Homo sapiens: one gene and its partner. The protein of the gene in region 1 purifies or fractionates together with the protein of each later gene. This does not show direct contact. Each region holds a gene or a part of one and is shown in the gene's direction. Other genes may lie near its edges.

Region 1 (3,500 bases):
CTTTCTGCCTGTGCCTCCCTCCATCTCTCTCTCTCTCTCTTTCTGTTCTGTCTTCACTCTTCCAGTTTCCATTTCTGAGTCTTGCATACACACACACACACACGTTGCCACACAGCCCCTCGTCCCGTCCCTGGGTGACAAGCTCAGGCGCTGTGGGGTGTAGCGCTCAGCAGCAGGGGAGACAGTGAGCAGGGAGGAGAGGGGGAGGAAGCACGCCTCCCCCAGCCTGGCCCGAGGCACCAGGAACAGGTGCCCCCACACCCCCACCCGCCCCCTGATCCCACACGATTGTGGAGGGGCCTTGGCAGGTCCTTGGGAAAACCTCCATTCCAACTGCTGGCTGCAGAGAGAAGGAAACCCAGGCTCGGAGAAGGGGCGGTTCCTGCTAAAGATTGCACAGCCAATGGAGGGCAGAGCAGAATTGGGACCCAAGGCTTGGGGCCCCCAGTTGGAAGCTCCCTCCAGCAAGCTGGCCCTGACACCTGGAGCCCCAGCTGCCAGCCTGGGAGGGGCTGGGACCCAATCTCCCCCAAGATTAGGCCAGGGATGTCTCCCACCTTCACTCTGACATCCCAGACCCCGACCCCCCAGCCACGCAGGAAGGGGGATCTGAGTGTGGAACACACGGGTGCCCTCGGAGGTCTGATGTCACCCCCTTCCCCAGGCCTTGTTGCTGGTGGCGGCCTTGGCGGGCCTGGGCTTGGGCCTGAGCCTCATTTTCATCGCTGTCTACCTCATCCGCTTCTGCTGCTGCCGGCCCCCCGAGCCCCCCGGGTCCAAGATCCCCTCGCCCGGGGGAGGCTGCGTCACCTGGAGCTGCATTGTCGCCCTTCTCGCCGGCTGGTAATGGGGCCCCAGGGTGGGTGGGCGGTGGGGACAGGGCTCCCCAAGCTCTTTGCTGGCCTTCCTGGGGGTGTCCTCCGGGGACATGGAGGAAGCAGACAGGAAGGAGGAAACTCCCTCGTCCCTGTCCCTGCCATTTGCAAGCCCACTTCAGCGCACAGCAGGAAGGACTGTCCCATTTGATGGATGGAGAAAGTGAGGCTCTGGAGAGGAAGTGAATCAAGGGCAGCCATCTGGTGAGAAGGCGCAGGGGCAGTCAGATGGCCTGGTTTTGGTGGCTCTCCCATTGAATAGCTGTGTGACCTAAGGGAGTGATAGTCTCCCTGGGCCTCAATTTCCACATCTGTAAACTGGGCATTATCATCTCGCCCACCTCCTGCGGGGGTAAGATGGAGAGAAAGCACAGTGTCTGACTTGCAGCTACTCTCAGCCAACATTAACTGGTGATGTCTGTCATTCCGTCATTCACCAGCTCATTCATTCGACAACTGTTTATTGAGTATTTACTATGTGCCAGATACTGACCAAGCCAGGCAAGGAGCCCCTCGTGCAGCTTATGTTCTAATCAGGGAGACGGACGATAAATAGATATAATCACCCTCCAAGAGCACCTCATCTGTGCCCAGACCTGAGCTGGTCTAATTCCTTCTCACAATAATGCTGCTGGATTCAGGGGTGTCAGGCCCAGTTTCCAAAGAGGAAGGCTCAGGGACAGAGGGGAGGTCACCTTTCAAGGCCACGTGGCTTAAGAGGCAGCACAGAGATTCAGACCCAGGTTAGTAGGACCCCCTCACACCCCTCAAAGCGAGCTTAGGGGGCTTCCAATGTGAACACACCAGCTACCAAGAACGAGCTCTGAGCACAGCCCCCTCCCCGGCAGGGCAGCACCCACAGGTTGCAGACAGCAATCCTCTTCCACAGACGGGGGGTCCCAGAGGGCCAGACGCCTGCCCCGGACCCACAGCGGGCAAGGGGAGGGACCTGTAGGGGTGGCCTGTATTCAGGACGCTTCCTCCTCCGGCTCTCTGGCGTGGGGGGAGACAGGGGAGGTGGACAAAGGCCCAGTGGGGGAGAGACACGGCCCCAGCCCCCGCAGCCTGGGAACAAGAGGAGCTTTGTAGGACTCTGAACAATGGGGCGGGGACACTGGGCGTCCGACCCGAGGGATGGGGGTGGAGGCCCAGCCGGGGCTGGGAACCGGGAGGGTGTCAGGCTCCCGCCCCCTCCACTGCGGGACACCGGCCGGGGGCGGGGACGGGAGGGGTCTGGGGCCCCACATTCAGGTCCCACAATGGAGCTCTGTGTGTCGGTAGGGTGGGGGCGGGGGCACGGCTTCTCGCCCATCCTCCAGCCTCCCTCCCACATTCCCTTACTTCCCTCCCAGCTGGCCCGACGCTTGGGTCCCGGGTGGGGGAAGGCCGAGAGCTCCAGGCTCAGCGTCCCCCCAGGAGATGGTGGCAGCTGCCCCCCTTGTACCCTTAGGAACCCCCAGGAGGTGGGGGCGGAGAACGTCTCAGCACTGAAGGGTTGGCACTGCAGGCCCCAAGGACCCTAGGGCACCCTAGGACAGGTGCCAGGAGGGCTGCCTGCCTGGCAAAGGATGCGGGGGAAGGGTGTGGGGCAGGCAGTCCTAGGGAGGGGAAGACGGCCCATCCCGGAGCTGGGTGTGACTGGGGTTCTGCTCCAGGGAGGTGCGAGTTAAATCGGGGGCTCCCTCCCCCCCACCACTCCACCCACCATTAACATCACAATGACGTCCCTCCGCTGGGGGAGTGAGGCCTTCCCGTTCCCTTGGCAACCGACGGGGGCCAGGCTGAAGTCGCCCTTTTCCCACGGGCTGGCCCAATGAGGTGGGGCTGAGATGGGAGGGGTGGATAAGAAGGCGAGGTGGAGGGGATGGGGTGGGAGGGGACGGTGGCCCCCGGGGTCCTGGGACCCGCTGAGATTCCTCTCCCTCCTCCTCCGCTCAGCACTGGCATTGGCATCGGTTTCTATGGCAACAGTGAGACCAGTGATGGGGTGTCCCAGCTCAGCTCTGCGCTGCTGCACGCCAACCACACACTCAGCACCATTGACCACCTGGTGAGGGGCCAGCAACCAGTGGGACCCCAGACCCACACCTGGACGGGCTCCCCACACCCAAGGACAAAGGGATCCAAACTCAGAGCTAAGACCCCAGGCTTGAAGCTTAGGAACCCAGATTCAGAACTTCATCCTGAGACCCACAGACCTCAGACTATCCACCCAACCCCCGACCCTGGCTGCAAATTGAGGACCTCACACACAGGCCCAGCCCTGGACCTTACCTGGAACCCCCAAGCCACACAGAAACCAAGCACCAGCGACACCAGCCCCTGTCCACGGGCCAGATCCAGGGCCCCAGACCTGATTCTTGGCCCGTAAGCAAGCTCAGGGACCCCCGCCCTGAGGCCCAGGTCCCCGACTTGAGGCTTCAGCTCCGACATCAGCTCCAGGATTCTGGGCCCTGGGGCTGAGGCCTGGCCCCACTTCATGCCTTAGATTCCATGTCCAGCTGCAGACTCTAGACCATGGGACCCAGACTTGAGACCCCAGATTCTGGAAGGCAGATGAAAACTTCAGACCTAAAGCTCCACACTTAATCTCAGTCCTGGGGCTGGACTTACTACCCTGGGCTC
Region 2 (3,500 bases), on another chromosome or scaffold:
TGGCTCATTGCAACTTCCGCCTCACAGGTTCAAGCGATTCTTGTACCTCAGCCTCCTGAGTAGCTGGGGCCACAGACGTGCACCACCACACCCAGCTAATTTTTGTATTTTTAATGGAGACGGGGTTTCACCATGTTGGCCATGCTGGTCTCGACCTCCTGACCTCAGGTGATCTGCCTGCCTCGGCCTCCCAAAATGCTGGGATTACAGGTGTGAGCCACCGCACCCAGCCATTATGTTCACATTGAAAGCAACTTCAAGTATAAAGTTATTATTTTTCATGGAACATTTATTAATAGTACCTAAACTGAGATAATTTTGAATTTTCCAACAGACCATTTTTTGGGCCATCTCTCTACCTGTCATTCTTTTAAATCTTTAACTTTGCTGATCGAGCTAACCACCCAGAAATGAGAGTTAGTTGCCACAGTAGTGCTCAGCAGGGCAACAGGCCTCTTTCATGATACTGCTTTCAAAGGCCTCTTGTGTTTTTGCACTGGGCCACTTCTTTTGATAGTTGTTCCTCTACTGCTGTGACTTGCAAGTCCTGTACTGGTGGAGTAGATGAACCAGGTCAGCATTTCTTACCTGGCACAAGGCTGTTTCCTTTTATCTTGCAGATCTGTAGTGCCCACTTTTTCATTTAATACAGTTGATGTTTCACGCTTAACTCTTTTGCCCATGAAGTCTTTTTACCTCTTCTATTTTCTATACTTGCTTGTTTTTCTTACTGATGTTACTTGTATTTCAAGGTTAGAGTCCAGGAAAATTAGTTTCAGTTGTTCTTTTGATGAACAGAAAGCCAATCACAAAGCAGCAGCATGTTTCTTGGTTGGGAATTTCAGGCATGTGTCCTTTTCCCTGTTTACCTCCAGGAATCCTTAGCCTCTGGAGAGAAGCTTCTATATGTCATTTGACTGTAGGACTCTGAGCTTCTTACTGATTTTAAGCACAAGTAGTTGTTTTGTGTGTAGAAGAGCAACTCATCTTTGTGAGCCTATCACAAAACAAAGGTACCTCTGTACTTCTAAAGAAATTGCTCTAAAATATTTGCTCTTTTCTAGTTTGTAGTATAATCTTGATTTCTATCAGAAATCAAATTGTAAAGTTAGACTGCATATTCAAGTTGCCATTCTACTTCCTGTGAGGCCAGCCAGCTTTTTGTCTGATATAACCACTAGTCCTCTTCCTGACCACCGAGAGGAACTTTCACAGGGCCACCCAGAAATGAGTTTGTTGCCAAGTCCTGTTGCAGGGTGGGTGTTAGTGGGAGTAGCAAGGAGCTTGACTGAACTATGGCATGACTTCCACACAAATTTTTGTCTTTATTTAGAGAATGGCAATTTAAAAGAAAAAGATATACTTGTTTTGCCCCTTGACCTGACCGACACTGGTTCCCATGAAGCGGCTACCAAAGCTGTTCTCCAGGAGTTTGGTAGAGTAAGTAGCATCTTATATTGATATAGTCTTGCTTTGAAGTAACTGCAGAAGAGATTCCCATCCGTGGTGCTGTCATACAAAGGGCTTTAGGCAAGTGGGGTCCATGCAGTGAGATCGGGCCCATGAGTTGGGCCCCTTAATCTCTGAGCCTTTGTCATTATGGAATTAGTACTTTTCATGTCTTAACAAGTACAAATTCCTCCATGTAGAACAAAAGAAGCTAAAAATTCACGGCTGCTTTTATTTATTTATTTATGTATTTTGAGACAAAGTCTTGCTCTGTCGCCCAGGCTGGAGTGCAGTGGTGTGATATCGGTTCACTGCAATCTCCGCCTCCCAGGTTTAAGGGATTCTCCTGCCTCAGCCTCCTGAGTAGCTGGGATTACAGGCATGCACCATCACGCCCAGCTAATTTTTATATTTTTTAGTAGAGATGGGGTTTCACCATGTTGGTCAGGCTGGTCTTGAACTCCTGACCTCATGGTCCACCCTCCTCAGCCTCCCAAAGTGCAGGGATTACAGGCTACTGTGCCCAGCTGGCTGCTTTTATTTATTTTAATGACAATTATTAACTTTCACAAAAAGTCACCTAAAACGGGAATTTAATTCCACAGGTAAATTCAGGGCTTTATTTTATCTTTTTAATTGCTGACTTCTGGAAATATACCATTGTTCCATTGATTCTTTAAGTTAACAAAATAACCAACCATCCATAGGAATTCCATCAATCTATCCACAAGACATCCCCCAAACACCCCTTTTCTGATTTTATTTAACTAGATCGACATTCTGGTCAACAATGGTGGAATGTCCCAGCGTTCTCTGTGCATGGATACCAGCTTGGATGTCTACAGAAAGCTAATAGAGCTTAACTACTTAGGGACGGTGTCCTTGACAAAATGTGTTCTGCCTCACATGATCGAGAGGAAGCAAGGAAAGATTGTTACTGTGAATAGCATCCTGGGTATCATATCTGTACCTCTTTCCATTGGATACTGTGCTAGCAAGCATGCTCTCCGGGTAAGGCTGCTCAAACTCAACTCTGATAGAACTGACTTAAATGTGTATATGGGGGATATGGCCATCACTGTGTGAGGTCCTTGGAACTGGAAGTGATGTGGGGAGACAGAGAGACCCAAGGAGACTTTTGGTAGAGGACACCCCCAGTAGATGCTAAAAAAGACTTGATCCACACATGCCTCTAACTTGTTGAACAAATAAATATGTATCAAGCACTGCATTGTGCCATGTACTACAACAGACCCTGGGGATATAAAGATAATAAGATGTGGTCTCTGCCCTCAAAAAGTGTATCATCTATTTAACATGTTACTCTTCACCTTATCCTTATTCCTACTAAATCTTCATGGAAAATTGGGGGTCCACTTCTCCTTTCTTCTACATACACTTCAGGATGTACTTTTTCCTCCCCATTTCTGTGACTTCTTTTCCTTGCCCCTTGTAGTTGGTGTTTATTTTGCCTGGTCTAATTATATATGCATGTCAGAAATAGGTACTTCCCACAGGATGATTAGTCCTGGTCTCATATCCTTACTGGGAAAAATCTTGACTGTATTCTCTCTGGTTTCATTGGAAGAAGAAAATCTAGTCAAGGCAGAGGCAAGGAGAGAAGCTTGATTTGGACTGCATAACTTACGATGTATAAATATTAGAAATGGATGAATTTTTAATGGTGGCTTAAGACTGGATATAAAGAAATTATAAGGCCAATAGGAAAAGAATGATTAAGGAAGACACAAAATTTATATTTAAAGCTGTTGAAGTCAGTTTAAGTAGAATGTTTCACTGTTGGAATCATGAGATGCAATAGCTACATGGTCATCATGGTTTCATGAAAATTTGAAGCTTTGGTTCTTTAGGACATCTTTTTTCTGCTGCAAAGTGCAGACAATTGCAGACAGTGATGAAGCGGAATGCTATACTGATGATTTCCTCATATTTAGTAACAGGCATCAGTCACTTCCTGTGGAGCAGTTGGGCAAGCCTCAGGCAGGCAGATGAGGGAGGGCGGCCACCCATCTGTTTGGCACCACGTGTCT

The links.
Region 2: the proteins of TTYH1 (region 1) and DHRS7 purify together in Homo sapiens (affinity purification with mass spectrometry; one large-scale study listed by BioGRID and IntAct). This does not show direct contact.

Annotation. Positions count from the first base shown.
Region 1 is NC_000019.10:54,418,464-54,421,963, forward strand, and holds part of TTYH1 (protein tweety homolog 1), read left to right. Parts: exon of another isoform or gene 1-254; intron 255-664; coding exon 665-843; intron 844-2,813; coding exon 2,814-2,925; intron 2,926-3,500. UniProt on the Homo sapiens protein: Calcium-independent, swelling-dependent volume-regulated anion channel (VRAC-swell) which plays a pivotal role in the process of regulatory volume decrease (RVD) in the brain through the efflux of anions like chloride and organic osmolytes like glutamate.
Region 2 is NC_000014.9:60,151,899-60,155,398, reverse strand, and holds part of DHRS7 (dehydrogenase/reductase SDR family member 7 isoform 1 precursor), read left to right. Parts: intron 1-1,333; coding exon 1,334-1,440; exon of another isoform or gene 1,441-1,447; intron 1,448-2,220; coding exon 2,221-2,460; intron 2,461-3,500. UniProt on the Homo sapiens protein: NADPH-dependent oxidoreductase which catalyzes the reduction of a variety of compounds bearing carbonyl groups including steroids, retinoids and xenobiotics.